4 linked regions of the Homo sapiens genome follow. The protein of the gene in region 4 purifies or fractionates together with the protein of the main gene of each other region. This does not show direct contact. Each region holds a gene or a part of one and is shown on either strand. Other genes may lie near its edges.

Region 1 (8,091 bases), on a different chromosome or scaffold from region 4:
CTGGGATTACAGGCACGCGCAACCATGTCTAGCTAATTTTTTGTATTTTAGTAGAGATGGGGTTTCACCATGTCAGCCAAGATAGTCTCGATCTCCTGACCTCGTGATCCGTCCGCCTCGGCCTCCCTAAGTGTTGGGATTACAGGCGTGAGCCACTGGGCCCGGCTGAAAAGTATCTTAATAAAGCTGGATACAAGGTCAAGCGTGGTAGCTCCCAGCACTTTGAGAGGTCTAGGTGGGTAGACTGCTTGAGCCCAGGAATTCAAGACCTGCCTGGGCAACATAGCAAGACCTGGTTTCTACAAAAAATAAAAAAGATTAGCCAGGCATGGTGGCATATGAGTGTAGTCCTAGCTACTTGGGAGGTTGAGGCAAGAAGATCACTTGAGCCCAGGAGTTGGCGGCTGCAGTGAGCCATGATAGTGCCACTGCATCCAGCCTAGGCCACAGAGAGAGACCCTGTCTCAAAAAAATAAATAAATAAAATAAAAAATGAAATGAAAAAATAAAGTAAATAAAATTTTAAAGCTGTATACCATTTGGCTTGGGGAAAAAAAGGAGTTGCAGTGACCTACAAAATAATATAGAGTGAGAAGTTGACTCAGTGCATTGATTACTCAATTCAACAAACATTAATTGAGCACTTGCTGTGTGCCAGGCATGGTAATAGGAGCTGGTAAAACAGAGGTAAAAAAAAAAAAAAACTCTTTGTGTCCACAGTCAATTGTTGTCTAGTAGGCAAAGCTAATATAGGAAGATAATTAATCAGAGTGCAACTAGTACAGTCAAAAGAGGGTATTGCAGGTGCAATGGTAACACAGAAAAAGGAATCTCCTTGGAGGAGGAGATACAGCAGCTCATGGAATGCAGGAAGCTGGAGCTGGAATGAAGTTTTCACAGTAAGAGAAAAGGAGAAAGGCATTCTAAGCTGAGAGAACAAGCTCTACAAGGGTATGCATTACCATGATACATTTGGGCAACTACAAGCAGGTGCTACCCCAGATCATAGGGTATTAGAAGGTAGCCAAACAGGAGTGAGGTTAGGGAGGCAGACCCAGCCACATAAGGGAAGAACCTTCTACGCCATGCCAAGGGCTCTACACTTAATTTCATAGACAATGACGATATAGATACTGCAAAAAGCATTAGCTAGGGACTGTCTTTCAAGTTAGCTCTGGGGATCACATGGCAATTAAGTGAAAGGGGAAAGAATGGGGAGACCTAAAAAATCACTAGGGCTGTGAACTTTGATATTGCACTTGACTGCTAGAATATTATGTGAGCCAGGACACTCTGATATGAGGAAAACCAATATGTAATATTTTTATCTTGCAAAGCTGATAATGCAGAGAATTAACAAGTTATGCATGTATAAACAGTAGACTCACAGTTAGGAAGCTGGCAAGTGTCTGTCACTTGAGTCCTGTAGTGTCATTTACCTGATTCACCTTTGGGCTTATCAATAGCATATACAGAGTCTTCATGATCACTGCCTGGGTCTGCTGGGTAGGAGGCGGGTTCACTGTGGAATAAATTAACCCCACAGACTCTAGATTTGCAATGAAGTCCCCCAGCTAGGTTTGTCATTTAAAAAGTGTTCTTCTACTCCTTGCCTGATATAACTATTTTCCCAAATCTAATCATTTCTTATTTTTCAAATCTATTCAAATCGTCAGCATTTATCTCTTCATCTTTTCTATAAATTTTGCCCTTTAAAGCCAATGGTTTTTAATAATAATAGCAAATGTTAATACTTCCATAGCACTTCCTATGCATCTGGCACTATTCTAAATGCTAAATGTATATTAAATGATTAAATTCTCATATCAACCCTATGAGATGAGTACTATTATTATCTTCATTTTTCAGAGGAGGAAACAGCAAGTTTCCCATGACATTAAATAGAAGCAGAGCCACTAATCAAATCCAAGCCATCTGGCTCTGGAGCTGATATTTTAATTCACAAATCTCAGTTTGTAAAGGTACTTAGTAGGAACAAGGGACCAGTGCATCAATTGTTGCCTTAAAGAAAACTTTTCTTGGATGTTCCTTTTCATAAACTTCAAAGTCCTGTAAGCTTTGCCCCTGCACCAAGTTGTAATGCTTTTGTATACACAGTTTGCATTGTTCCAACAACCTTAAGAAACATGTTTGGAAGTACAGTTCAGCCAGACTGAAAGATTACCCCTCTCAACTGCTTTTTGTTTTTGTTTTCGGCAGTTTAACCAAAACTCTCCATCTCACAAATAAAATCCTTCTGTAAGAGTTCTTCCAGGACATGAAACTTACTAAGAATTTGCAGCTCACTAAAATTTCTTCCTTTTAATACTCAAGATTGAAATAAAACCTTTTCTGCAAGGTCAGCAATAACAGATCTAATGTAAGTCCTTTATTGATTTTTAAAAAGTTGATTACATTAATCTTTTTACTTTTTATCTTGTCTTTAGGTCAAAAGTCACCAGTCCTTTTGTGAGAGGAAACTACTTCTCTTATTCTCTGAAGCTTTTAAAGAGAATATAAAAGTAACAAAGTCATTTTTTTAAAAATCAGCCTACCATATAAGGGTTTAGGATCTACTTACAGGTTGAAAGACCCTTGACCCTGCCCAATCTTAGATGTTTCCTATGTCATTTTTGGATTCTGAGCTTTATTTCCAGAAGTGATTAATTATTCAGAAAAAGAAATTAGCTGGCACTTAAATCTTTAAAGTTTTGAAACTTTTTTTTTTCAGACAGAGTTTCGCTCTTGTTGCCCAGGCCAGCGTGCAATGGCACGATCTCGGCTCACTGCAACCTCCGCCTCCCGGGTTCAAGCGATTCTCCTGCCTCAGCCTCCTGAGTAGCTGGGATTACAGGCACCTGCCCCCACGCCCGGCTAACTTTCTGTATTTTTAGTAGAGACGGGAGACGGGGTTTCACCACGTTGGCCAAGCTGGTCTCAAACTCCTGACCTCAGGTGATCCGCCCGCCTCGGCCTCCCAAAGTGCTGGGATTACAGGCGTGAGCCACCGCGCCCGGCCGAAACACTCTATGTGAGCAATTCTTAGAACTTTATGGACTTCTGATTCTGCATACACTCTATAGTAAAATACTTCCCACTTTTTTCCAAGACTTTTTCAAAAAATCAATGTGAATGACCCAAAGGTCAAAACTTTCAGATGAATTTTGTGAAAATTATCGCTAATGCTTCAAAGTGAGAGGATCAGGAAGGTGGGTGTAGAAGAATCTGTGTTTTTCTTCAAATGTTAATGGAGTGGTTTATTAGCACAGACCTTTTAAGCCAGGCCACGAAAAGGCAGCGGGATGTTTTCAAGTCCCCTTGGGCTGGCGAAGCGGGTACTTGCTGTACCTTATCAAGCACTGAACATTGAATACGTGTTGAAAACAGAGCAGATACGCAACCTTAGCAACCACTCACCTCTGCTATTTTAACAAAATGTTAAGCAAGCGAAAGAAAGAGAAAGAAAGACAGAAAGAAAGAAAGCAGATTAGCATACAAGGCAGGACATGCCACCTTTATATTCTGAGCTCTGTCCACAGTGAGCAGGCCGTGTCAAACATCGGGAGAGACAGAGAATGATTGATCATGCAAAGCAAACTGTAGGTTTGAATCCCAGCACGGCCATCTACGAGTTATAAAATCTTGCCAAACTACCTAATGTCTTGGTACATATACCTAGAAAACGAGAATGATCCCAACCTTTAAGATGAGAAGAGAACTGAATGGGAAAAGCGGGTGAGAACAGCTGACCCCAGCAGCCTCCCAGTAACCTAGTTTTCCCTTCCCATCTCCGTGTCTACGGTGTTTGGTGGCCTCATCAACTCCCGTCGCCTCCAGCAGCTCGTTCACTCAGTGAAGGTCCTAGACCGAATGGCCACCTTCCTGTATGTGGGTACTCATCACCCACCACCTTTCCGCTTTTCGGTGCTTTGCCCTTTTTATCTTATCTAGTAGCCAAAGCTGAGACTGTTGGGAGTCATTTCCAGCTCCGATGGTAGAGGAGTAGGGTTGAGGGGAAACGCCAAGGCGTGCTCCACGCCTGCCGTCCGCAGCCCCGTTGGGCTGTGGTACTCTTCTGACCAAAGTCTGGGTCACCGGGAAGCAAGAGGGAGCGCCACTAAAGGTATCTTTTGTGCCTTGTATTTAGCCACCGCATTGCCAGGATGGGAGTGGAGGCGGACGGTGCCCGACACCACGACTCAGGGAGCGATACCTGAGCTCGCTCGGCAATTCCCGGGCTCCGGGGACGGGCCTGGGCGGGGAAGGAGCCGGGGCGCGCAGCAGCACCCGGCGAGACTGCAGGGCGCCCGAGTGGTCGGACGGGGGAGCGAGAGCTAAAGCTTGCGGAGCGCGCCGAGCCGCGGGCGCTGGCGGCCCCGGCCGGGGAGCTGACGCGAGCCTGCCGGGCCGCGGGAGCTGCGGGAGGCGGAGGCCGAGCTGGGGGCGGAGCGGGCGGCGCCTGGGAGGCGGAGGCGGTGTCTCCCAGAGCTGCGCAGGCGTTGCTCGCACCTTGTTGATTAGTCAGTGCTGGGAGCGCTGCTATGGCGTTTCTCAGACCCGCGGCTCCTCCTCACACGCTCGAGGCGGAGGGAAGGAGGGGTAAGAGGAGGAGGAGGCGAGCGGGCGGCCGCCGCAGCTGCAGACCCAGGGCCAGAGGAGGAGGCGGAGCGGGAGCCGCCGCAGCCACCCGGGCCGCCGCCGCCGCCCGCAGCCGCGCGGCTGCTCTGAGTCTTCTCCGGGCGTGAGGGCACGCGGGGCGCCCCAGCCATGCCCCGCAGCGGCAGCTGAGCCGGGCGCCGGCCCCCTCCCTCCGGGCCGCCCCAGTCGCCGCGCCCCCCCGGCTGCCCGCGGCCGGAGCTGCCCGGCGCCTCCCGCGCGCCCCAGACCGCGAGCGCGAGCAGCGGCGGCCGCCGAGGCGCGGGTGGTGCCGGTGGCGGCGGCGGGGGAGCGCGGGACAGGAGGCTTCGGGGAAGATGGACCCGGCGCCCTCGCTGGGCTGCAGCCTCAAGGATGTGAAGTGGAGCTCGGTGGCCGTGCCGCTCGACCTCCTGGTCAGCACTTACCGGCTGCCCCAGATCGCGCGCCTGGACAACGGTGAGTCCCAGCTGGGGCGCGGGGCAGACGGGCGAGGACAGCCGTCTCCACGCGGGTGTGCGCGCGTGTGCTGGAGAGGGTGGGACCCGCGGGGAGTGGGCTGCCCGCCCCTGAGCGCCGGAGTTGGCCCGAGCGGCTGCCGCAGCCCTGGCGCGTTGCTCTCAACTCCCCCCAGCAGCAGACAAGGAGGTGGAAATCAGAGTCCTTGCAGTATAATTAAAAAGGACGCCCTAAAAAAAAAGTCAACATAGGGAGACCTCTGCAGATCGTAATCTTGGACGCCAGATATCCCTCCCCACCCTCCTGCAAGAATTACTCAACCAGGGAAACCCTGAAGAGTTATCTTAGGCAACTTTCTTGAGAATATCATTGTGCTCCGGGTGGCATCTTAATTTGGGTGCTCTCCTCCCTATCTCCCCCATCCCCCGCCAAACAGATTTAAAGGAAAAGCTCCTGGGTGACCATTGAAAAGGATCACATTTCTCAGAGACCTTGTATTACAGCTTGTCTGTTTTGTTTAACCCAACTGAAAGTAATTTGGGGCTGTGTGTAGAAAATGTTTTCAGCAGAAGTGATGGCATGCTTAAGGTTAACTATTAGGTTTAGCGCATTTCCAGTCTGGAAAAAAAAATAAGTCTCCAAAACGTATTGATTCGGAACCTGAGCTCAGAACTAAGAAGGGTGTATTTCCTGAAACTGACCACCAGAAACCCACCCAACTCCTTCCTCCAACTGTTTATTCTGCGGTGTGACAGCTGCAAACACATAGTTGCGCATACTGTCAAGCAAGTAGACACCTTTCAGTTGGAGAGTGATGACACGTAAGGTGGCAATTTAGGTGTGTTTGGTCTTCTCTTGTTTTCATCATAACTTCAGTGGGCTTTGGCGTCATGCGATTTTAGACTGTTTGCAGAAAGAAGCCTGCCCTGCTGTGGGGCAGCTGTGGAAGTACACGGGCCCAGGCTGGCAGGCAGGCAGAGCTGTGACTACACAGGCCAGGTCAGAAGAACACTAAGCAGAAAGATGTCATTTCGAGTCACAGGCACTAGGGTTACTCCTTGTTTCCTGGGGTAGAAGAGTGGGTAACGTGAGATGTATACATACACAAAGGAGTTTTTATTCTGTTTCTTATCTGTGGGGTTTGATTAGACATTTGTATATCTGATGTGAAAAATAGATGCAGGAAAGTTCGTGAAGGCTGGAAAACAATCTTGGCTTGCTTGCTATCCTCGTTTGATTGTTGGTAGTAGTAGGGTGCATTGGGAATAAGCTGGAAGTTTTAAAACTAGTAATGAAGTGCAGATCACAGTAGCTGTTGAAGCGGTGGGGTGGGGGCGGGGGGGGGGGACGCACAGGTGGTGTGTTGAGGCGTTTCTGCTTCGAGTGGGGGTGGGAAAATGTTGTGTGCTTTAAATAGCATCTGCAGACCTGAACTGGTGTGTGTGTTTGTATTCACAGCGTTTCATTTCCTCCTCCAAAATTGTGTATATTGGCAGATTGTGAGTCCTTACCTTTTCCTACCTTCTCTCATCTCTGCACACTGCCACATTTGCTAGCTAGGCAGAGAGCATTGCTGCATGTGGTGTAAAAGCCACTCAAAAGCTTCATTAAACTGAAAGTTTAAAGGGGTGGAATATCTCACTTTCCGACATGACTTTCAGTTTTATTTCCCACTTTTCTATCCCTGCCATTCATAAAAAGGATCTGAATCAGCAGTGTACTCATCCCACACTTCTTTCTAAAATGAGGACGTGGGTAGCAAGTCTTAACACTGTGTCCTTTCAAGCTGTGGAATGGATTTTGATCACTATATGTAATTCCAATTCTTCATTGTAAATTTCTCTTATTTCCTTATTGCCGCTTGAGAATCATAGTGGCACATACAAATTTGGAATCATTGCCAGATACTGCTTTATACCTTGCTTCTTTCACTTAACAATCCCATCTCATTTAAATATTTTTGTCAACATGATTTTTAATAGCTGCCAAAGAGTCCATGGGCTAAGCTATGCCAAGTAATTTCATCCCCTATTGTGGACATTATTAAGCTGTATTATTTTGTGCTATTAAAAATTGTGATGTAATGAATACTGTTGTACATACATCTGGGAGTTTTTTGGTTAGAATGTATTTCTACTTTGCTGAACAAGCATGTCAGTCCTATTAAAATCCTTGATACACATTGTCAAATTGCTTTAGAGACTAAAGGAAATCCTCGTTTACACCAACGTGAGCATTGTGATAGTATCAGTCTGCCCACATCCTGAAAATATTAAGTATTTACCAAAAAATTCTCTTCTAATTTGATTGGGGAAAGTGTTGTTATAGCAGTTTAATTTGGGTAGACTTTAAAAGAGTCAATCATAGATTCTTTGCATGTTTTTAAACATGTTTCACACAGTTTAGGACAGGTTGAGGACATGCTGGTATATTTATAAATGTTATAGGTGAAATCTTAAGTTTTGTGTTGTCCTCATCCTGTGTTTGCCTTTTCCCCAGTTTTAGTACTGCAGGTACATTTTACATCTGCACACGCCCACCCTATACTTAGACATGAAAGATAGTCATTTTTCAAATCACTTGTTTTTAAAGAGACTAGAACAAAATTGAAAAACATGCCACTAGTTGACATTATGCCAAGAGGAAATGATTGGCTAATTTTAAATAATTTTTAAAGAACATTAAAAAATCTAATTTCACAACTATTGATTATCAGAAGCCTACTATGGGCTGGTACATTTCTAGATGCATAATATGTATTGTCTCAAATCCTCAGCAACACAATTTTTAAGAACTTCAGGAACCTAAGATTCAGAAAAATTGACTTGCCTGAAGACTCGTACCTAGTAAATGGTGGAGTGGAATTTCCAGCCAACCTTCTGACTCTGAAGACTGACCTCTTATCTCAAACTGGGCTACCTCCTGGTACTAAAGGAGAGAAGGGTTGAAGTTGTTCTGACATCTGCTCTAAATAGGTTCACTGTCTCTCTGAGAGCT
Region 2 (8,178 bases), on a different chromosome or scaffold from region 4:
GAAGTAGTGGTAGTTGGAAGAAACTGACATTTAAGTTTGATGAAGAAATTCTAAATAGACACCTAGAGAGGCTAAATGAATTCAAGTCCCCAAGGCAGGACAAATTGCATCCACTGATCCTAAAACAATCTGAAAACTAGATCACTGAACAACTCTCAATGGTCTTTGAGGAGTCATAGAGAACTAGGAGTGCCAGAGGATTGAAGTGCTAAAGGCAGGGTGAGGTTAATTCTCGAAAATCCATAGCAAGTAGCTTAATATCTCCAAAGCAAGTAATAATACTTCACATCAATATATTTTCATTTAATTTTGCTCAGATACAGAAACAGAGAGTATCCAGACTGCAGCTAGACAGTTGTCAAGGTCCCTTACGGTATCCTTTGGTAAAGCCAGAGGAATATGTGTGCTAGTTATCAGCACACTATGGTAGCTAATTTATTATTGAAGGAGTATGCTAAACAGGTGCTTATAAACAACTTAAATCAGTTTTCAAACTTTTTGACTACAATTTGCAGTAAGAAATACATATTACATCATTACCTAGTAAACATACATATGTATTTTTATGTACGTGTGTGTAATTAAAGCAGATCTTATAAAATGGTACTTACCCTTACAAAATAGATTTTGAAATTTCTCATTATGTGTGTTTCTATTCATTTCATTTAAAAAAAACCCTGTTGGTTGCAACCCACTAAATCAATTTCATGACTCCCTATTAGGATGGGACCCACAGTTTGAAAAACGTGAATTGATTCAAGCAGAGTGATACTGGTGACTGCTGAGCTGTTTTCATCCTGTTCAATCAACATTTGAATGGAGGTATAGAAGGAATGCTCCCAAATTTACACATAGACTAATAAGACAATAAATTATTTGCATGATATAATCAGGATTAAGAAATTCCTAGCAGATGAAATTTAATGGATAATTAAATAGAAAATTTGTATTAAATAATCTTTTTTTTTTGTTTTGAAACAGAGTCTTGGTTTCTTGCCCAGGCTAGAGTGCAGTGGCATGATCTCTGCTCACTGCAACTTCTGCTTCCCGGGTTCAACTGATCCTCCTGCCTCAGCCTCCTGAGTAGCTGGAATTACAGGTGGCCACCACCACACCTGGCTAGTTTTTGTATTTTTAGTAGAGATGGGGTTTCACCGTGTTTTCCAGGCTGATCTTCAACACCTGACCTCAAGTGACCCACCTGCCTTGGCCTCCCGAAGTGTTGGGATTACAAGCATGGACCACCATGCCTGGCCTTAAAATAAAATTTAAATTTAAATTGATATGTTCAATTTTGTACTTATATCTCAAAATCTACATGTAAAGCTACAAATTGTAGATATGCTGCTGCTAAAAAAACAGTAATAACAAAAGAAAACGCCTTAGTTTTTCAGGTCGATAATTATTTCATGCAGAAGCTATTGTGATTAATAAAGTAAAACTCTTTATTAATCCTAATTAATCCTGATGGTCTAATCTGTCCATCAAGATGGACCTTTACGAAGATTACCCATGTAAGGATGGACTGGAGAAGAGTGAGTGTGGAAAAGAGGAGACCAGGTATGAAGTGACTGGGATCTGAATCAGGGTGGCTGCAGTGAGGATGAAAAAAGTGGGATGAATGCGAGACCTATTACCAGGAAGAATGGGCAGATCTGTAACTAATTTAATGGTGATAATAATTTCAATATGAGAGGAGAATGGAACCAAAATTATTTGAGAACCTACTACGTGCCAAATGTGAATCATTACTACATTACACGAATCATTAGTGTCATGTTAAGAAAAAAATCCAAAACCAAAACAAACCAAACAGATCTAATTTGATTTGGGGCAACATTAACAGGAGCTATATTGCTAAAGGTTGAGGGTGAGGTAAGAATTTCCCTCTGTTTTATACAGGTCTAAACCCACATTGAATTTGGAGTATTCTGTTCAGATAAAGTTTAGAGGAAAGCAAGAAATGTGTTCTTTAAAGAACAGGTGAAGGAAACGGGAATAGTGTGGAGAACGGCTGTTTCCATCCATTCATTTTTGAACATATTTATTCAATGTAAATTATGTCAGGCAAGGTAGGTGCAAAAAAAAAAAAAACCCAAAAATAATGACACAAAATAACTGTGGGTATTTTCCGGCAGCCAATGAAGGGAAACATTATTGATTGCCACTTACTACTACATTAAGTACGTTAAATGTATTAGCTCCTTTAATCCTATAAAGTAGTATTATCATCCTTACTTTGGGTTGAGTAAACTGAAGCTTTGAAGCTAAAGTCATTTTCCCAACATCACACATATAAGTGGTGGTGGAACTAGAATCTAAATCCAGCTTCCATTGAATCTGGGGCATGACTTCTCAACCTCTCTGCAATATTGCTTCCTGAAACTCAGATTCACAGGTTTCTTATCTTTGAATGATTGTCCTTAGGAAGTATGGGTATGCAAAAATGCATACAAAATTAATATTCACCACATAAAATATATTTTTTAATCTGGAGATTTAAAAATATACATATTGGGTATCTTCTATTATTATGTAGCTTTTCTTTCAAAATATTGTTAATGTAAATGTAAAGTTATTTGCACATTTTCCGGGAAAAGGTTTTGTAGGCCAAAAAGAAATAGACCTGTTGACTTTTCTGAACTTTATGCTTTTGGGATGGTATGGAAGACATATAACTGTGCAATTATGCAGACTTGTATGTGGTTATAATTGGTATTACATGTGTTTATAGGTCATGCAACACACATGCCTGTATACTAAGGACACAAAGACACATTGACTATATGCTAGCTGCTCAGCTGAAATTATTTTATGGAATTCTTACTTCCCTATGAAACACATATTATCATTCCTACTTAAGGAACCAGGAGACTGAAACTCAAATAGCTTGAGTAGACTGCAAAGGTAGTAAGTTGTAACTATGACTCAAAGAATCATGCACTTTCCACAGTATCATAGCGCCTGCGAGGAGCTGATTGTCTACTGGAGAAAGATTTTTAATTGGTAAGCTCTTTTAAATATCTCTGAAATTGAATTAAGTAGGCAAAAGAAGTGGAGTTTTCCTACTTAGAAATGGTGATATTATCTTTACCCACTCACTATCTTCACTAAGAAAAATGAGCAGAAAAATACAACCAACTGCATATACATACTACTTAAGAAAAAATACAAGAAAAATCAAAATGGAAATGTTAAAAATGATGTTAAGCTATTCATTCAGAAAGGAAATAGAAAGTTCAGGTTGTCACTGTCTCTCAAAGTACTCATGCAAGAAGTCTAAAAATAGCAAAAGGTAGAACCTGCTGCCATATAGATATATGCACAGTGGGTAAAAAAACTTAGTGTGACAACCTTTCAGTCTAGATTTATGTATTTTACAAAGATATCATTTTAAATTTGCAAATGAAACAGTACTCTTAAAAGCAGATGATACTCACTTGGGACAGACAAAAATGTAGTAGAAGGATATAAACGTTACAGGATTTTTCAATTATATAGTATATCTCAAGTCATACTATTATGACTTGTATGTTTTGTAAATTTCCCGTACAGTTTCAAGCATTCTAGCATTTTATAATTCAATTGCCATTTAATTTAAATGGACATGCTAGTTACCACTGCTTTCAGAAGTGTTTGCTTAACTACTTTAACAATTCAATCACTTTGGTGCAAGTTTAAACAAACAGACATGCAACCAAGAATTCATCCTAAGTACTGGTTTTGAGGAACTTTTTTATAACCTGTGGTACTTAGAATTTTACCGTGTTCCCATATCCTGGGAGTTAACTTGACTGGCAGGTCCAATTAAATATGAATAATAACAAAACTGATTATGGTGGATTTGTATATTGACCTTTTTCATTTGAGAGGACAATTAAAACGATCTGAATATACCTCAAGATACCTAATATTTCTGGTGACTTGCAATAATCTTTATTGAAAAGGGAAGACCTCATGAAATATTAAAGAAAATTATATCATTCCTTTCAAGGAACAGTCATGCCTATTTAGTTTTAATTCAATACTAACAGCAAGATTACTGTGTACATTTTAATTTTTAAAAATTAAAGGTTTATTTTTTGTCTCGTATCTGTGCAGACATAGATATGTACTTTTCTCACAGACAAGGCTGGCAGTGAGAATCACCCATGTTTTTAGATAATTTCGAAAGTCCTCTGAATTGTACGTGCCTGTGAAAAAAGGAAACATTAATAATTGGCATCATACCTGAGGATTGTCAGGATTTTGAAAGTGTGGGATTTGTCGTTCCCACCAAACTACCCCACAGTGTCACACACTGCAGTCTTTTTAGGCTGGGAGGCGAGTTCAAGAGCTGTTTGTTGTTCCGAGCTTGATCCAGAGAGGATCACTGTTTGACAAGTTCTATTTTAAGTCGTGCCTGAGTGTGCAGGTGTCAGCCTCTTTCATGGCTGTAGAAAAAGCACCATTACACTCCGTCTGTATTCTTCCCCCGACAATGCAGGATCGCCCCCCCGCCCCCCCGCGCGTTTGTTTCTGCTTTGCCAGCCACTTTTTCTTTGGGAAATTCTAGGGAGGGCAGGCGGACAGGACTGCGAGGAAGGGCGAGGAGGGGCAGAAAGAGGTCGTCTGCCACTCCCCTACCTTACAAGGCACGTGGCACTGGCAGTAGCAGCAGCTGGATGCAACAACTGAGATGAGGAACCTCCTCCCAGCAAGAGGATATTGAGAGAAGGAGGAGGTGGCAGCGAAGGCAAGACATGCACACTGTGTCCTTCCCCAAAGGGAGAATCCGCCCTCAAGGGAAAAACCACAAGGAAGCCACTACCCGCCCCGCCTCTGCCAGCTTGCCCCAGTGTCTGGCAGCAGTCCCCATGCACCTGCTCACCTGTCTATCCGTTCGGGGTGGTTGGGGGAGGGACGAGGGGTGTCGGGGTGGGTGGGTGGGAAGAGAAGGAGGGCAGGGCAAAAGAGGGGGTGCACCGAGGGCTCCGCCCCCCCGGAGGCTGTGCGCAGGCGCAGTGGCTGCTACCGCAGGCAGGGGGCGGCAACATGGCGGAGTGAGCGGCGGCGTCGGGGCTTCACAACAACAGTGGTGGCCGTAGCAGCGGCGGCAGCAGCGTCAATAGCATCGGCCACAGCCTGAGCTTCAGCACCGGCCAGCGTCGTGGCCAGCTGCTCGCGTCCTCGGGCTTCTCGGAGCGGCTGCAGCATCTCCGCGGGGGGCGGGCCGGGCCGGACAGACCGGGAGAGGGAGAGAGCAGAGGCAGCGGCGGCGGCAGCGGCAGCGGCAGCGGCACACCTGCTGGGCGGGCACAGCCGCTTGCCCGGCAGCGGTTAGCGGTACCGCCACCGCCGAGAATAAGCCTGCGGATCCCCCGCCGCCTCCGCGGGGGAGAGCGCCGGAGCGGGCCGGGCTGAGGCGCAGGCGGGGAGCGGGCCCGGCGCCGCGGCGCTGGTGGATGCTGGGGCTCCGAGGCGACGGCCGGGGGGCGGGGGCCGAGGCAGGTATAACGGTACCGGCGGCGGCAGCGCCGCTGCTCTTCCCTTCTCCTCAGGAGGGGGGCCAATGGCTAGCGAGAAGCCGGGCCCGGGCCCGGGGCTCGAGCCTCAGCCCGTGGGGCTCATTGCCGTCGGGGCCGCTGGCGGAGGCGGCGGGGGCAGCGGTGGTGGCGGCACCGGGGGCAGCGGGATGGGGGAGCTAAGGGGGGCGTCCGGCTCCGGCTCGGTGATGCTCCCCGCGGGGATGATTAACCCTTCGGTGCCGATCCGCAACATCCGGATGAAATTCGCAGTGTTGATTGGACTCATACAGGTCGGAGAGGTCAGCAACAGGGACATCGTGGAGACGGTGCTCAACCTGGTAAGGAAAAGGCGTGCTCTCAATCTGCTTCCCCAGTCCCCACATACACCGTCCCCAGCGCCTTTCCCTCCCACCCTTCACCCCCAGGGTCACACGCGCCGCGCGTCCCTGGGAGCGCAGAGCGTTCAGCCGGTATTGCCCAGCGGGTGACCTGCCTGCGCGCTGCTAGAGCCACGCCACCTCCCTCCTCTCCTCTTTCTGGTCCTCTCCTGCCACCTGAGCGCAGTGCCCAACTTAACACCGCTTCTTCTCACTTTTTAGGACCGCGAGTAACCCAGTACCCGCGGTGAAGGTTTTGGGTCGACTTTAGAGTTTAGTTAGGAGGTGAGGAGGCCTCCTGTTCTCTGGGGTTCTTTTTCTCACACTTAATTGTCCTTGGTGTCGCTCTCCGAGGATGACAGCCTTGCCCCTGGAGCCTAAATTCCCCCGTGCTGCTGAAATGTGAGAAGCGCATTAGCTTCCAACTTGAGCAGCTGGGGTGTGATGTTTTCGAAGGAGACAGAAAATGATGCAGTTTTGCATCTGTCTTTAAATATTCCAAGGCCATGATGGAGAGTGTTGTGTCTGTATCCATCCCCCTCCATCTCAGAAGCAGCCGTCCCTTCTTTGTAATATTGCCCTGAATATACTGATCTCTTAGTCATTTTTTGTGCACACAAGGTGTGTGAGGACACCAAATCACACAGGTTGATTTCTGTGGTTACTTTCAGTAGTGTGGCATGTGGGTAAAGACTAAAGGAAAGGTTTTAAACGCAGCCCTAGGTTTTGGTTCCTTTCATGGTAAGAAAGAGTTACTGCAGAAGTGTGTATGACTTAATGTTTTGCGCTATCTACAGAGAGGCTCAGAAGCGTTTAAGATGTCAGGGAAAGAAATGGAAAGAAGGAGAGGAGAATCATACATTGAGGATAATTAACAGTAGTTCATATTTAGTGCTTTGTAAATGGAGGTTTTGTTTTGTTTTGTTTTGTTTTTAAATGCAGCCAAGCTTTTTAAACAGTTTTCTCTGCAATAGATCTAGTCTTTGACATACTGTAAGGTTGGGCTTTGGGAGGCAAGACATAAATCGAGAGCAATCAGTTGAGTATTGTATTTGGTGTGGGGTCACAGGAATATAACAATATGCTTACAGGGGTACTTTGTAACACCCATGCAGTCATTTTTCAGCTAAGCAATTATTTTTACTTACTCTATTGGAAAACTGAGAGAAAGCTGCAGCTACATCAGTGGTGTCCTGAGACATGCATTAGATAATGTCTACGGTTTATGAACCTCGTAAATGCACAGAAAAGTTGAAGCTGTTTTTTTCCTTTTGCTAGTGTGTCAGGTCAAAGGAGATTATCTGTCTTTGTTATATTCATTGCTGTTTAAAACAAAACACCTCTTTTTACTTTTTTGTACCTTTCAAATAAATCATCATGAAAAGTCAGTGTAAGTTTGAGGGAATGTCACTAAGTTGATATAACCAAGTTCTTTTCAGAACACTACTAGAAATACAGTTTTCTTGAGTTTTAATTTTAACTAGCTGCAAATAAGAGGTCAGTACTTGCCATTTCTTTTTAAAAGAAGATAAATCTCAAACTGTTAGTATGTTAGCAGGTAACTGTATTTCTGTAATTTAAAGGAACACATTTTTAGTTGCAGTTTTGATCTAACCAATATCATTTTTAAGTTAGATTATATTAGGCTATTTTAGTAAGTATTCCTATGCTTACTTAATACATTTTAACCTGGTAAGAGGCAGTAGAGCTTTCACAACCTGGAAACTGATTTGAATGTATAACCAGTTTGGACTCTGCAGCAGTAGCAATGTGTGCTGAATCAGTTCTTAACAGATGGGGTTTTTTAGATATACGGTAGACTAAGAAAGGAAGTGAAATGTTTCTCTTGAGATAAAAAAGAAATTTAACTCTTCAGAGCAATGAAAATCTGACATGAAGTTTCAGTATGCAGACGTTATTTTAGAGAACTTTACCATTAAGCTTAGAGTCACTAGAAATAAAGTAATACTGAGATAGTATATCCCCAAATCTACCTAAGATTTTGTAACTGCAATGATATTTGGAATTTAAAGAGTTAGGTTTAAAATTTCTTTGTATGTATTTAAAGAATGCAATAGATTTTTAAATAGAAACTTTTGGAGAAAAGAATAAATGACAAAAGGAGCTGTTTATTACTAAGTTGTTAATTATATTAATTGTGGAGTATAAATTAGTCATTTGAAGTGTAATTTTCTTGAACTGTAGATTTAGGGCTTTATTGTCCAATACACTCATGAAAATGTCATATGAAAATTTAAGTGGATTCTCAAAAATATGTGGAAGTCATGGGCATT
Region 3 (7,672 bases), on a different chromosome or scaffold from region 4:
GCTCACACTTGTAATGCCAGCACTCTGGGAGGTTGAGGTGGGCAGATCATCAGTCCAGGAGTTCAAGACCAGCCTGGGGAACATGGTGAAATCTGGTCGCTACTAAAAATACAAAAATTAGCCAGGCATGGTGGCACTTGCCTGTAGTCCCAGCTACGTGGGAGGCTGAGGTGGGAGGATCACTTGAGCCCGGGGAAGTTGAGGCAACAGTGAGTTAAGATGGAGCCACTGCACCCCAGCCTGGGTGACAGAGTGAGACCCTGCCTCAAAACAAAAACAATAACAAAACAAAAACAACAAAAAAAGTTTCCATATCTTGTTTTTATAAGGAAAGTGGTTTTTGTTCCTTTCTTTTTTTCCTCTTCTTCCAGGCTAGACTGTGGACAGATTAAGCCAGCTTCAATAATGAGAATAAAGACTTTACTCTATGGTCAAAATGGGTTAGAAGGAACCTGGTTCCCTGAATGATCTCATGGAACAGAGCTGCCTACTCACCCTAGACTACCTGTCTACCTCTGTACTGTTATGTGAGAGAGAAATAAACCTTAATCTTTGAGTTATTGTATTTGGGGATCTCTTTGCTATAGTAGCTTAGTGACTTCTCAGAAGAGGCAACATTTAAGCTAAGATCTAAATGACAAGAATGAATAAGCCATACCAAGAGGGAGAGAAAGAGCATTTCAGATAAATGAAAATGACCTAAAGGGAGACAGGTCAGTACGGATGGAGTACAGAAAGTGAATGGTAGAGATGAGGTTGGAGGATAATTAATTCAGGACCAAATCAAATAAGGGTTTGAAGGCCAGGGTAAGAAATTTTGATTTCAATTGTAATGGGAAACCCCTGGAGAATTTTAATAAGTGTCATAATTGGGCTTATTTTTTAAAAACATCATTCCATCTTGGGCTATGGAGACATTTAAAAAATTAAAACAAAAAAAATCACTCTAGCTGCTCTGTGTTAAACCAAGTGAGGTGGCAAAGTGAAGACAAACACTACTATAGTTAGAAAGCTACTGCAATAGTTCAGGGGAGCTAATTTTGTGCTCTGAACTAGGGTGGTGGTAGAAATGAAGACAGAGAGAACAAATTCTTGAAATGTTTTAGAAATATCAACAAGGCTAATGATGAGTTGGATGTAGGACAATGCAGGAAAGAGTGGAATCATTGATGATTTTGAGTTTAAGCAACTGCTGTATAACGAGGTGATTTGTTGTGTAAAGGGTGGACCATAAAGAGGTAAGAAGAGATAAGAGTGGAGACAAAGAGGTCAGTGGAAAGCTTGAGTTGAAGACAGCTGAGTTTTTGTAATTTGTTTTGCTTTTGTGGGGAGGAGGCAGATTTTGCTGTGAAAAGTAACAGCTCTTTTCTAATAATGTTAGCTTCTATATGCTTGTTAGGCATTCAAGTAGTCAGGCAAGTGTCTCAAAGGTTTGAAATTCAAGGGAGATGTCTGGGTTGGAGATATAAATTTGAAAGTCATTAATACTATGGGCAGGTCATAAAGCCATGGACTGGATGAGGTAGGTCACCTAGGGAGAAAATGTATGTAGAAAAGAGGACACAGGCATAGCCAAGAGCACTGCAGCATTGGGAAGAAAATTTCCAAGGAAAACCAAAAAAGAGAGATGTCACGAAAGCCTGGAGACTTTTTTCTAGAAGGAAGGCATAGTTAATTGTGTCAGAAGCCATTGAAAGATTGAGTAAATGGGGATTGAGACCATTCACTGGTCTCAATGGCTTTGGCAACCACTGGCTTTGGCAAAAAGTGGGCCTTGAGAATTGCCATTTCAGTCAAGTGCTAGGAATAAATACCCATTTGGAGAATTTGAAGGAGAGATGAGGAGGTAGGGACCACACATATAGACATGTCTTTACATCTTTTAGGGAGTTTTGCTGTTAAGGGAAGCAGAGAAATTCGGTGATAACTGAAGGTAGAAGTGGGGTCAAGTAAGGATTTTTTTAAAATTTGAGTAAGATCTTAATAGGAATGATTACTAAAGAGAATAAAGGGAAGATGTACAATCAGAGGTATCTTAAGAAGGCCTAGTGAATGGGAGTCCTTTAAGTGTTTTATGTGCAAAGTGCTATAGCCAATGAGGCATTTTTAAAAAACTGGAAATCTGGGGGAAAGATGGTCACTCTTGATAGAAATGGGGCTGAGAAGGGAAATCATTTTAGAAATAATGGTAAATGTATTTTGGACATATTGAGTTCAGGAAAATATTTAAGCAAAGATTAACCAACTTAGTACAAGGGATTTTTATTTTTATTATTTCTATGATCTGAAGAGAAACCAGAGTATACAAGGAATTTTGAGCTTCAAGATAACAAGAAAAATGATATATTTTACAAAGGACCAATCCAGTTGGTAGACTATTTAAATTATCCTATATCAAATTAATAAGGATTTACTTTGCCAAGATTCTTGGCACTTTTATATTAACTTAAATTGCACTGGGAAAAAAGCATAATAGTAGTTGAGAAGCAACTAATTATAAGCAATTATAAGCCAAATTATGTTTATACCACAATTAGTGTTTGAGGTGGTTTAGTAGGCAGATTCTTCAGTAAGAACCATCAAATAATTGAACAGCTTGTAAAACACAGAAATACTTCTTTTATCTTTATTCCAAGTAGAGTAACCACATTCTTTTATCATTATAAAATAAGCAACATTTATTATCTTTTGTCCCAATCCGCAGTTTGAGTTGGATGCTTATAAAACATGGCAAGAGGGCTGGGTGCGGTGGCCTCCCAGCACTTTGGGAGGCCGAAGTGGGCAGATCACCTGAGGTCAGGAGTTCAAGACAAGCCTGGCAAACATGGTGAAACCTCGTCTCTACTAAAATACAAAAATTGGCCGGGTGTGTTGGCATGCACCTGTAATCCCAGCTACTCGGGAGGCTAAGGCAGGAGAATCGCTTGAACCCAGGAGGCAGAGGTTGCAGTGAGCCGAGATCACGCCACTGAACTCCAGCCTGGGCAACAGAGCGAGACTCCGTCTCAGACAAACAAAACAAAGCAAGAGTAGTTTATGTACCTAGCTCACAACATAGCTTCTTTCAACAGGTTTCACGGAGACACGTGAACCACGTTCTTGTAAGACAAGAGCTATTCTACAGGGTATCTAGAGTGCAAACCCAAACCATGTCTTTTTCAGTGGATTTTTCATGTTGACATCATCTTATTTCACTTTGGGGAAAGTTTTTTTCTAAGGATGATAGCGAAAAGTCCTTTTGTCTTGTGACAATAGCAATTTTTATGTCAGCTTGGGTTTTTTTCCTCCCATATTCCCAAGTAAAAGTAATAACTTTGTTACCAGTTTTGCCATCTGAGGTTAAACTGTTTGACCATGGCTTGACGACTATTTTATACTTAACACTTATAAAATATTAGACTGATAGTTATTTAAGTTACCACCAGTGATAGCTCTGGAATCCCTGTTTTATTAATTTCCAGGTAAATCCTTCTTAAGCACATGGGAAGATAGCACTGTAAATTTTGGGGGGTAAGGAGAACCTCCATCAATTAATACATCAGCTTGATAAAATTCAAAGAAAAACATGATCAAATAAGTTCAGATTATATTTAACACATTCAGTTTCTAGAAGTAGTTTTGCTGAATAAATTCCCACCAGTTGAGCTAATGGAGCAACGGAGCTGCCAGTGCTTCCCGGAGGCTGCTGTGCTCAGCCAATTCGGAGGCATGGCGAGCCACACGGTGGGAGGTGGGTAAAGCCGGGGCCCTCCAAGGCTGGGCGCCACGTTGCTTTTCTCTTCTGAAATAGGAAGACAATGCTTCTGGCTATTGTATAAACCAGCCGAGGACTGCTTTCATTCGCACATCAGCCAAGGCGTGAGCAGAATTAAAGCGCCTTCTAATTCGACCCCTGGCAACGTGCGCGTCACGGACAAATGTTTAGTTTTAACGCCTGGCTGCGTTCGCCTTGGGAAAACACACTTTTAAGAATGGCCAAGTACCTCAGCAGTCGCGGTGAACTGCACAAGATCAAAACCACCACGCCAACCCAGCGCTGGCCACCGTCCCCGCTGAACCCCGCCAACACCCCTAAGGACCCACCCATGTTTTCTGCTAATCATTTTTTTTTTCTAAACAGCTCTGCACAGCCTTTCCTCATTCCGTTCCCGCTCTCCCCACCCACTCTGCGTTCGATCCGAGGTTTCTAGTCCCCAGCTGGACATCACAGCACCAACTCCCACTCAGGAGCCGGCCAGAGCCCGAGCCGCAGCGCAGTGGGCAGCTCCCCGCGCTCTCCGCCAGGCCCTCGGCCAGCCAGCCGCCACTCGGCCGCGAGTGATTGACAGGCGGCAGCAGCTATAGGCCGTGGAGGTGGGACGATGCGTCACTTCCTGGTCTTTTGGGGGGAGCCGGGATATATAAGGGCGGTGCTCACGCAGCGCTCTCGCTTACACAGTATGGCCGGCGACATTAGCTAGCGCTCGCTCTACTCTCTCTAACGGGAAAGCAGCGGAATACAAGAGACTGAACTGTATCTGCCTCTATTTCCAAAAGACTCACGTTCAACTTTCGCTCACACAAAGCCGGGAAAATTTTATTAGTCCTTTTTTTAAAAAAAGTTAATATAAAATTATAGCAAAAAAAAAAAGGAACCTGAACTTTAGTAACACAGCTGGAACAATCCGCAGCGGCGGCGGCAGCGGCGGGAGAAGAGGTTTAATTTAGTTGATTTTCTGTGGTTGTTGGTTGTTCGCTAGTCTCACGGTGATGGAAGCTGCACATTTTTTCGAAGGGACCGAGAAGCTGCTGGAGGTTTGGTTCTCCCGGCAGCAGCCCGACGCAAACCAAGGATCTGGGGATCTTCGCACTATCCCAAGGTGGGTCCCCGGGGCGCTCGCTGACATCCGGGCCTGGGGGCTGTCGCCGCCGCCGAGGCACCAGCCACGGGTGGAGCCCGAGTTCCCTCAGCTTTCAGTTGGGGGCAAGTCTGCGGCCTGGGGTCGCTTCGGCGGCCTTGGAAGGTGCGCGGTTTGGGGGAGAGCGGCCATGTCCACGCGGGCCGGAGCCGGCTTCTCCCGCCGTGGTTGCCGCGCCTGGCATTGCCCTGGGGGAGGGGAGGAGGCCGGCGCGGCCGCGTGCTCAGGTAACGTCCCGCGCTGGGCGGCGGGCGGCGCGGCCCGGGGTGGTTTTGCGGCCCGCGCCTCCCGACATTTCCCTCCGTAGTAGTTGGCGGCAGGGGCCCCAGGTGGGGGTCGGGGGCGCCTGCGCGGGTTGCCTCCGGCAGGTGTGGCTCGGCGGGCTTAGTCAGGCGCTAATTCGGGCGTGCCGGCTTCGGGGAATGGAGGGCGGGAGCGGCGCTTGTTCTTGCCTCGGGCGCGGATAGGAGGGGCCCTCCCGGCCTTGTCTGAGGGGCTGGCGAAGAGGCCTCCCACCCGCGGCGGCCGCGGGCAGCATGTGGCGTTCGGGCGGCGGGGATTGGGCGGGAGCAGTTATGTCGCAGTGGCGGGGCCCCACCGCTCCCCTAACATGCTCTGCGCCAGAGCCTTTTCGGGGCGGCTGGGCAGACGGCGCAGTCCCCGGGGCCGCCCTCGACACGGCCGCTGAGGCCGCTGGGGGCTGCTCCCCAATCTCTTGACCTTGGGTTGTGTAACCTGCTACGGAGCCGGCGGAGCGGGGCGGGAGAGGTGCGGGTGGAGGGAGGCCCGCCTGCCCCAGGACATAATGCCTCTAATGCCTTAAGCTTGAGCAAAGGAATCTGGGGCCCACTCCCACTGCGGGCCGTCACGCGAGAGATACTTGGGCTGACCGCGCCGAAGAGGCGTTTTAGTTGGTATTGCTGTGGAAATCCATGCTTATATAAAAGCCCAGAGATCCCGTGGATGCTTAGGCCTTGTTCCTGGCGGCGGTCGCACCGGTGGCCACCAATGGCCTTCCTAGGCCCTGCCACCGGATCCCTGGCTCCTCTGCGCACGAGTGCGGCTAGGGTGGCGGTGCAGCGGAGTAACTGGCGTGGCCAGCTTCATTGAGAGGCGGCGACCAATGGGCTCCTGGGCCGCACTCAGAGCCTGGCCCCAGGGTGTGGACCAATGGGCGTTTTAGGAGTGTTAGCTGTTCTTGGAGCTGTCCCTTGACAAAAAGCAACTGGAAAAGGGAATCCAGGCAGACACGTGCTACCGAGACTTTAAGGCACGACGGGAAACCCGGTTTCTAGCAGTGTATCTTGAACGATTCCATTGTAGAAAAAAATACTAGTCATAGCTAAAATGTCACACGTCTCATTTTTTTCAAGCTTCGTGTGACACTTAAAATGTCTATAGCGCTTACTACGTGCCAGGCTCACGTGAGATTATAGGAAGCGGACTTTGGTCATGGAGAAGCTTAGTATTTCCTTCATTTCACAGATGAGAAAGATGGTATTTGTGATAGACGTTTGGTAAAACGATTGTGATCAGGATAATTAACCTAGAAAATCTTGGCAAGAACCTAGAAAATCTTGGGTAAGAACAGTCCTAGAAAACGAATAACAGAAGTTGTCACTTTGGCTTTTTAAATGTTTGAGCCCTTAAATAATAGTAAGTACATGTTCTTAATAAAGGGAAGAAGATTTTGTTCTCCCCAAGTTCTTGGCGGTTTGGCTGTTTAGAGCTTCCTGAGTCAAAGTGGAGAGAGGAGGAAGAGGCTTTTTACAAAGCAGCCTGCTTTCTTTAAATGTTTAAGAACCCTTTTTACTTTGTACTTTAATCAGCCCAAATTGTTTTACTGCTCCAGTGTGGCTTTTAAAATCATGGCCAAAGTTAAACTTTGAAGGACAAAATATTCCCTTGTGTAGATGATTTAGTGCCATCCATTTTGTGGACATGTAACATTCATTGAACAACTATTGGTAGTACACTGCCACATTGTAACTGTTGTAGATAAAGCAAGTTAAGCAAGAACTGAAAAATATGTTGATTTAACTAAGGTCCCGTGATAACCTTCGTTGGAACATTTTTCAGTGACCACTCAAGTGGTTAGGTTATTTACCAGGATGTTTAAAAAAGCCTGAAATAGTAGGTGTTCCTTGAATCACCTAAAATCAACAGCCTAGCAAAGAGAGTATCATGGACGGAGTCCGGTCGGTGGGGACATGGGGCCAGCCCCAGAGACCCCAGGGAAGGATAATCGGTCATCTAGAAGAATAAAGCGTGACATGTTTTACTCAAATGACGTGATTAAGTGCATAGCCTCTGGAATAACAAGATTTGAATTCAAACAGCATTTAATAGCTGTGTGAGCTGTTTCCTCATCTGTAAAATGGAGACAATAATGGTACATAGCTCATGGAAGTTGTGAAGAATAAATAAGTTAATATGTTATATGTAGTACGTAAACTGTTATCTTTAACACTTTAAAGACAGGATCCCTCTATAGCCCAGGCTGGAGTGCAGTGGCAGGATCATGGCTCACTGCAGCCTTGACCTCCTGGGCTCTATTAAGATGTGAATAAACTAAAAGTAGGTTAAAAGATGAACAGATGGAATTAAACAAATCTGTTTATAAAGCATAATAAACATAGGGACATAAAAACGATTAAGAGAATGAAAGGCTTAAATGTCCAAAGAGAGCATTAGTATTGATGCTAAAGACAAGGATAACAAGATAAGGATATGAGGGAGAAAAAAATCCTGGAAAAATAGCTTTCCAAAACTAA
Region 4 (7,799 bases):
TAATTGTCTTTAGTTCTGAGATACTATGAAGCTTTTTATTCATAACATTACAGAGATGATTTTGCTAAAGATAAAACTGCGAAGTATTTCCAGATGACAATGCCCTGCCCCTCCTTTTTGGTTAAAAATCAACAACACAATAAACAAAATCTGAAAACCCAAGGAAAAACAGAGATGAAAAAAGCGAATAGTAGAGCTCCTTGTTGTAAAGCAATTGCTCAGTATTAGGGTGCTGCTAGGTTTTCCTGCAGAAGGAGTAAGTACAGCATTTCCTCCTGTGGGGCTGGGAGAATACCATTTGTGTTAGACTCACTATTATGTATGTGTACTTTTTGGTCGTGATAATTTCTAACATTTCTTAAACACTTACTGTGTGGAGGTAGTATGCTAAGTCTTTATTTATATGGTTTCTGTTCTTTAGGGAAGCAATAAGTCGCCTGTGTGAAGCTGTCCCCGGGGCAAATGGAGCCATTAAAAAGCGAAAGGTAAATGATGATGTGGTTTTCTTGTTTATGTTTCCCTAATTATGGCAAAGATAGTATGAAAATCGCTGTTCGTTCATCCCACCATATGACCAAGGTCCAGCCTGGCCTTTATTAGGTGGCGTGATATCAGAGCTGCACTCAAAACTGCTCTTGTCCCTCAAATCTTTCCGAGTTGCCTGACACTGTCCGACGTGGTGATACCTCCAGCTGCAGAGGGGAGAAAGCCCTGGGCTTTATGTCAGAAATGTAGGGTGCCAGAGTTGGCTGTTACTGACCAGTGAGCATGGGATCTCATCTTGCTGAGACTCTGTTCTTATTTCCTGTGGAGTTAGGGAGTTGCACTAAATGGCCAGTTTAGTGCCTTCCAATTTCCACATTTTATAATGTATGTATTCTGCATTATAACATTTTAGACTTTTTAGGCTTCCTGGCCTATTTTCTAGTATAAATATGGATAGTGGTAAAGGTGAGGTAATAGCACATGGGTACAGTAGCTTTCCCTGTGGAAAGAAAGCAAAAGTTTTGATGTTAGACAGACTCGGATTAAAGTCCTGCCTCAGCCACCTACAAATGGTGTACTCTTGGACAAGTTACTTAACCTCTTGGATCCTTGGTTTACTCATCTGTAAAATGGGAGAAAATAGCACTTACTTTATAGAGTTATGTAAGAAATAAACGAAGTGATGTCTACATACTATCTACCACAGCGTCTGGCATCTATTACACTTTCTGTGTTAATGGTAGCTAGTATTATTGCTATTAAGCTATGAGCCCTAGAATATTTTGTTGGTTTGAAAAGTCCAAAGGGCCAATGCAAAAGCTCTTGAGATAACTATATAAATCATATAGAATTGCAGACTGTTTAAGGGAAGGGTTTTTTGTTTTTGTTTTGTTTTTTGTTTTTGAGACGGAGTCTCGCTCTGTTGCCCAGGTTGGAGTGCAATGGTGCGATCTCGGCTCACTGCAAGCTCCGCCTCCCGGATTCAAGCCATTCTCCTGCCTCAGCCCCCCGAGTAGCTGGGACCACAGGAGCCCGCCACCACACCCGGCTAATTTTTTGTATTTTTAGTAGAGACGGGGTTTCACTGTGTTAGCCAGGATGGTCTTGATCTCCTGACCTCATGATCCGCCTGCCTCGGCCTACCAAAGTGCTGGGGCCACAGGCGTGAGCCACCGCACCCGGCGGAGAAGGGTTTTTTAAGAGATCTTCTGGTCTAACCTTTTCATTTTGCCAGCTACTAAACTGAGTCTGAGACAAGAGATGATATTTGCCTGAGTCACTAGGATGATTAAGGTCAGAGCCAGCTGTAGAAGCCAAGTCTTCAGATTCCCAGCTTAGGGCTCTATTTCTATACCATTCTGCCCCATTTTTGGTTATCATTCTTCATTATATTACATAGGGCTGAACCCAGTGTCACCTAGAGAATCCACACGGTATGAAACATTCTGACAAATGGCTCTTAAATTCCATCAAGGACTCCCTTTGACTAGTTTCTTTCACAGAACCCATGGTTCCAAAGTAATCTCTAACCTCTTCCTGCTTCTCATAATTTCTGATTAGGATGCTTCAACTGGATGATTCCAGCTACCAGGCAAGATATTCTCATTTAAGGAGCAGGGATTCCCCATCCCAAAATAAAACAGAGCAAACCTGGCTATCATCTATCCGGAAAGTACACTTGCAGAGAAAAACAGAAAAGCAGCTAGTTTCCTTCAACAGCTGGCATGTATTGAGTACTTAGTATGAGCCAGGGACTCTTTCCAGCACTTTAGGCTTTTTTCTTTTCTTTTCTCTCCACTTTATTGTGGTAAAATATCCATAACATAAAATTTACCATCTTAACTTTTTTTTTTTTTTTTTTTTTGACAGTTTCACTCTGTCACCCAGGCTGGAGTGCAGTGGCTCACTGCAACCTCTGCCTCCTGGGGGTTCAAACGATTCTCAATGCCTCAGCCTCCCGAGTATCTGGGATTGCAATCATGTGCCACCATGCCTGGCTGATTTTTGTATTTTTAGTAGAAATGAGGTTTTACCATTTTGGCCAGGCTGGTCTCTAACTCCCTGGCCTCAAGTGATCTGCCCATCTCAGCCTCCCAAAGTGCTGGGATCATAGGTGTGAGCTACCACTCCCAGCCTCATCTTAACCCTTTTTAAGTGTACAGTTCAGTGGTATTAAGTACATTCATATTTTTGTGCAGCCATCGCCATCATCCATCTTTAGAACTCTTTTGATCTTGCAAAACTGAAACTCTACACATTAAACAAGAACTCCCCAGTCCCCTATCGCCCCGGCCCCTGGCAACCAAAATTCTACTTTCTGTCTCTATGATTTTGAGTACTCTAGGTACTTCATATGAGTGGAATCATACAGTATTGGTCCTTTTATGACTGGCTTAATTCACTTAGCATAATGTCCTCAAGGTTCATCCATGTCATAGCAGATGTCAGAATTTACTTCCTTTTTATGGCTGAATAATTTTGCATTGTATGTATATACCCATTTTGCTTATCTATTCATCTGTAGATGGACACCGGGTTGCTTCCACAGCTTAGCTATTATGAATAATGCTGCTATGAACATGAGTTACAAAATCTTTTAGAGACCTTCCTTTCAATTATTTTGGGTATATACCCAGAAGTAGAATGGCTGGATCATGTGGTTATTCTATTTTTTAATTTTTTTAGGAACTGCCATACTGTTTTCTACAGCAGCTGTATCATTTTACATTCCCACCAATAATGCACAAGGGTTCTAATTTCTCCATATTCTCACCAAGCCTATTCACATTTTCAGTTTCTTTATGATTTCATCTTGATAGGTATTCTAGGAATTTGTCCATTTCATCTAGATTCTCCAATTTGTTGGCATACAATTGTTCACAGTAGTCTCTTACAATCCTTTTTATTTCTATAGAATTGGTAGTAATGTCTTCACTTTCATTTCTGATTTTAGTAATTTGAGTCTTTTCTCTTTTTTGCCTTAGTTCATCTAGCTAAAGGTTTGTCAGTTTTGTCGATCTTTTGGGAGAACCAACTTTTGGTTTAATTAATTTTATCTATTTTTCTATTTTCTATTTATTTTATCTGTGTTCTAATCTTTATGATTTCCTTCCTTCTGCTAGCTTTGGCTTTTGTTTTTTTCTAGTTCCTTAAGTTACAATGTTAGGTTTTTGACTTAAGACCTTTCTGCTTTTTAAATAAAAGTGTTTATATCTATGATTTTTCCTCCTAGCACTCACTGTTTTCACTGCATCCCATAAGTTTTGGTATGCGGTGGTTTTTATACTTTGTTAATCATCACAAAAAACCTAGCCACTAGTGTTATTATTTATCCCCATTTTACAGATGAGGAAACTGGGGCCCTGAGAGGTTAAGTAACTTGCTTAGTGGCCCAGTCAGTGTATGGAGGAGCTAGGTCAAGCCCAGGCAGGCTCCAGCATTTACACACTTAATCACAATGTTATCTGCTTCCTTGCCAAGCATCTGCCCTGGGGGGAGGGAGCCAAAAACGATTTAGGACCAGTTGAATATAGTCAGATCTTTGTTTGATTTCTTTAGATCTGTTAGATACTGCATCATTAGCAGTTTGGAGTGCTAATGGAAAAATGATTTATTCATTTATGTGATCTCCCATGAGTTTTGAAGTCTAAAAGTTAATGAATAACCAAAAGAACTGGGGGTTCCTGAGAGACTATGCGACATAGAGTAGAAGAGCTAGGCTGCTATGTCAGTACAAATAAATTGACCCAGATATAGTCAATTAATGTTTCCCTATCTTAATACTTTTCTCGTTTGTAAAATGTGGATAAGCACCTCTGCCAGGCCTGCCTCCACTCTTTAGTAAAATTTGGTCAGTATCCCATCCTCAGCCTTCTCTTTCTGTTCCCTTCTCCTCTCATTCCCATAATGACCTCTCCCAAGGCCAGGGTCTGCAGTTTCTCTTTCTCGAAGGAGAAATCCTACAGCAAAATTGCCAAAATTCATTTTAAAAGTAGTAATTATAACCACTACAGTTTGTTAGCACTTCGCTGTATACTATGCATTTCCATATACTTTATTATTAATACTAAATTTGATTCTCCTAAGATTCCCATGGCTAGAGGTGGAAGAATGGAAGTGATAGTAGTATTAATCCTGTTTGGTAAACAAAAACATTGAGGGGGTTCCGGAGTTGTCTAAGGTCCCTTGACAAGTTAGGATCAAACCTGGGACTTGAATTCCAGTTGCCTCACTGCCCATCCTGTGTGCTTTCCGCTCCTTTTTCTTCCATCGGTCTTTTAACTGTTAGGACATTTCTAATGATGGCATGAAAGACTTTGTCTCCTATATAATAAATACATTTTGGACATTTCTCACGAGATTAAGGTTATGGTGAGAACAAAATTAAGATGATTTACGTAAAAGTTCTTTACAGATAACAAAATGCTTTTCGACTGTGAGACAGTGTTATAATTTAATTTGTATTTCATAATAATATATATATATATATTTTGAGACAGTCTTGCTCTGTCGCCCAGGCTGGAGTACAGTGGCCCAATCTTGGCTCACTGTGACCTCCGCCTCCCAGGTTCAAGCGATTCTCCTACCTCAGCCTCCTCAGTAGCTGGGATTACAGGCATGCGCCACCACGCCTGGCTAATTTTTGTGTTTTTAGTAGAGACGGGGTTTCACCATGTTGGTCACGCTGGTCTCGAACTCCTGACTTCATGATCTGCTCACCTCGGCCTCCCAGAGTGCTGGGATTACAGGCGTGAGCCACCGCACCCAGCCTCACAATAATATTTTTTAAACTAGCATGGAAAAGAAACTCTAGAGAAGCAAATGAGCAGCTTGCTGTTAAATAAAATCACTGTGGGAACACAAAATCCCTGAACTGTGTGGCTCGCTTTGCCCAGAGCTGTGTAAGAAGCAAAGAAAGTAGACCAAGAGTCAGCTTTATGATGTGGTGATAGCTGTGAGGTTGAGGGCTCCTTCCTCACACTGTTTGCACTACATTTTAGAATGTGCTTGGAATTAAAAATAAAACTGTACATTAAATTTCAACAGTGTGTGTTTAACAGTTTGGTATGGCTCCAGAATGAATCAAATGAGAGTAATATAAAAGCAAAACTAGGAAAGAAACAAATTGTGTTTTCATTGATTGCCTTAAAGTATTGATTCATATGCTGAGGAATTACTGATTTCCATCATCTGGTCCACTTTCCAGTAGAGGATTTCAGGACTTAATCCAAGCATCCATCAAAGCATTCAAATCTCTCAAATGATTTCTTAGAATTTTTAATGTTAGGAAGGGCAAAAATAAGTAATAATAATAATAACAGCTCTCATGTAACCAGCCAAATACTATGCTAAATGTTCTCTAGTTATTATTTAATCTTCACAACAGCCCTTATGAGGTGGCTACTGTTTTTCCCCCCACATTTTATATAAAAGGAATTTGAGGCTTAGAAAGTTTATTTGTCTAAGGTCATCAGTTGGTAAGTGGCATTTCTGCCTGAGGAAATCTGCCAGCCCAGCCTCTCGCCCCCCTGTTGGTACCTTTTTCCTGACATATGACCCCAGTGCTTTTCTTTATAATTCCTGGGTACCCCCTGCTCTCATGATTCTTCACCACACCCCCACACTTCTTCTCCTTGAGAAATGACTGGTTCAGAATTTTGACTTTTATCAAAACATATCCCTTTCCTCAGGATCTGCCTCTAAATCTCTATTAGTAATTTCTGGTAAATCATCTTTATTAATGAGTTAATGTGGAATGGGCTAACCCCTTCCTAGTAATATTTGTTCAGTTTAACAATTGGGACCTTCTGAAAACAATGGTTTAACCTAAAAGGGTGCCCAGTGGTAGAATTTCAGGCATCATGATTATCTGAAGGTAACAATTAGACTAGTAGAGAGGACTTTTTAACTCTGGGAAGGGAAAGATGAGGGAGGAACAGGGATGGCCTCAGAGAAGGAAGCAGTTACGTAATTGGAGAGTTCATCAATGCCTTCTGTGGCATTAGATTCAGTGGATTGTCAAATTTTTCTTTTTTTAGATTTGTAGTATTGAAAAGGACTCAAGAGTTCAGCTGGTCTAAACTCTCACAGGAATTTGTTTACATTAAAGCAGGAGCCCACTCCCAGCACCTGGGGAGGAGAGAAACTATGAGAAAGTTCTGAGGGCCTAAATTTCACTACTTAATAAAGAATTCGCTGCATCCTAATTTAAAAAAAAGTTTATTTAATAAAAACCATTCCCTTTCATTTGATTTACATAAAGTAAAATAGAGAGGAAGAGTTTGGACTTTGACTCATTTTTAACATTTAAAAAACATTAACATTTATTCTGTAACAAAATTCCTAACAGTGTTTTGTTTTTCTTCTTTAATTTTTAAAGCCTCCAGTTAAGTTCCTATCAACAGTCCTTGGCAAAAGTAATCTTCAGTTTTCAGGAATGAATATAAAACTGACCATCTCAACATGCAGTCTCACATTGATGAATCTTGACAACCAACAGGTAAGATCACAAATGTCATTTATAGATAAACATATCTATTTTTTCAGAGAAGCGTGGGGATAATGAAAAGAATAAAGTTTTAGACAGAGTATGCCTACAACCTAATACAGCACAAGGGAAAAATCTGCTGAAGATTTATGCATAACAATCATTAGAACAACAGCATTACTAACCCATCACTGGAGCATGTAACCACCTACATAGGTGTCCCTACCTAACTGGCTTTGAATGAAGAACTAAGTTGCAAAGAACATAGAAAATATCATTTAGCAACTCATATCCTTGAATTGGTCATTGATGTCTCCACCAACCCTCCCCAAATGGATAGCAATTCCGTTATCACAACTAACAGACTGTGTGTTGGGCCAGGGTACAGATGAGGGACAAAGGGGAAAGGTGATGTTGGGGTTAATGTTCTAGCGAACTGAAATTTAAGCAGAAAATATTTTCTTCCAATTCTTGTGGTTGAGAAGCTTTCTAAAATGTTATTGTATAAAAGGTAATGTTTTCTTCCTTAATAATTTATGGTACTGTGGTGTGCCTGAGTTTTCATTGTGAACCTCATTTCTCAAAGAACAGCATTGCTGAAGCAAATGTAGAAGATACGTAGGCATTGGGCTAAATGTGTACCTAAACCAGGACATTTTGTTTGGCTTGCTTTTAATTTTTTAAACTAAATTCCTTCTATCAGGTTATGTATGTGTGTTAGGATCTGATTTTCCTCTTTGTCTAATATGTTGTGATCCAAGTTTCTTTACACTTAAGGTTTTACTGTATGGAGTGCTGTTGATCAAGGTTTAATATGTACTTGGCA

Evidence for each region.
Region 1: the proteins of SHC4 (region 4) and GAREM1 purify together in Homo sapiens (affinity purification with mass spectrometry; 2 studies listed by BioGRID and IntAct, with this or other methods). This does not show direct contact.
Region 2: the proteins of SHC4 (region 4) and NBEA purify together in Homo sapiens (affinity purification with mass spectrometry; 2 studies listed by BioGRID and IntAct, with this or other methods). This does not show direct contact.
Region 3: the proteins of SHC4 (region 4) and AMD1 purify together in Homo sapiens (affinity purification with mass spectrometry; 2 studies listed by BioGRID and IntAct, with this or other methods). This does not show direct contact.

Annotation. Positions count from the first base shown.
Region 1 is NC_000018.10:32,467,311-32,475,401, reverse strand, and holds the start of GAREM1 (GRB2-associated and regulator of MAPK protein 1), read left to right. Parts: upstream 1-4,519; 5' UTR 4,520-4,973; coding exon 4,974-5,094; intron 5,095-8,091.
Region 2 is NC_000013.11:34,937,270-34,945,447, forward strand, and holds the start of NBEA (neurobeachin), read left to right. Parts: upstream 1-5,000; 5' UTR 5,001-5,551; coding exon 5,552-5,845; intron 5,846-8,178. UniProt on the Homo sapiens protein: Binds to type II regulatory subunits of protein kinase A and anchors/targets them to the membrane. May anchor the kinase to cytoskeletal and/or organelle-associated proteins.
Region 3 is NC_000006.12:110,870,357-110,878,028, forward strand, and holds the start of AMD1 (S-adenosylmethionine decarboxylase proenzyme), read left to right. Parts: upstream 1-4,428; 5' UTR 4,429-4,749; coding exon 4,750-4,859; intron 4,860-7,672.
Region 4 is NC_000015.10:48,883,434-48,891,232, reverse strand, and holds part of SHC4 (SHC-transforming protein 4), read left to right. Parts: intron 1-421; coding exon 422-485; intron 486-6,865; coding exon 6,866-6,985; intron 6,986-7,799. UniProt on the Homo sapiens protein: Activates both Ras-dependent and Ras-independent migratory pathways in melanomas. Contributes to the early phases of agrin-induced tyrosine phosphorylation of CHRNB1.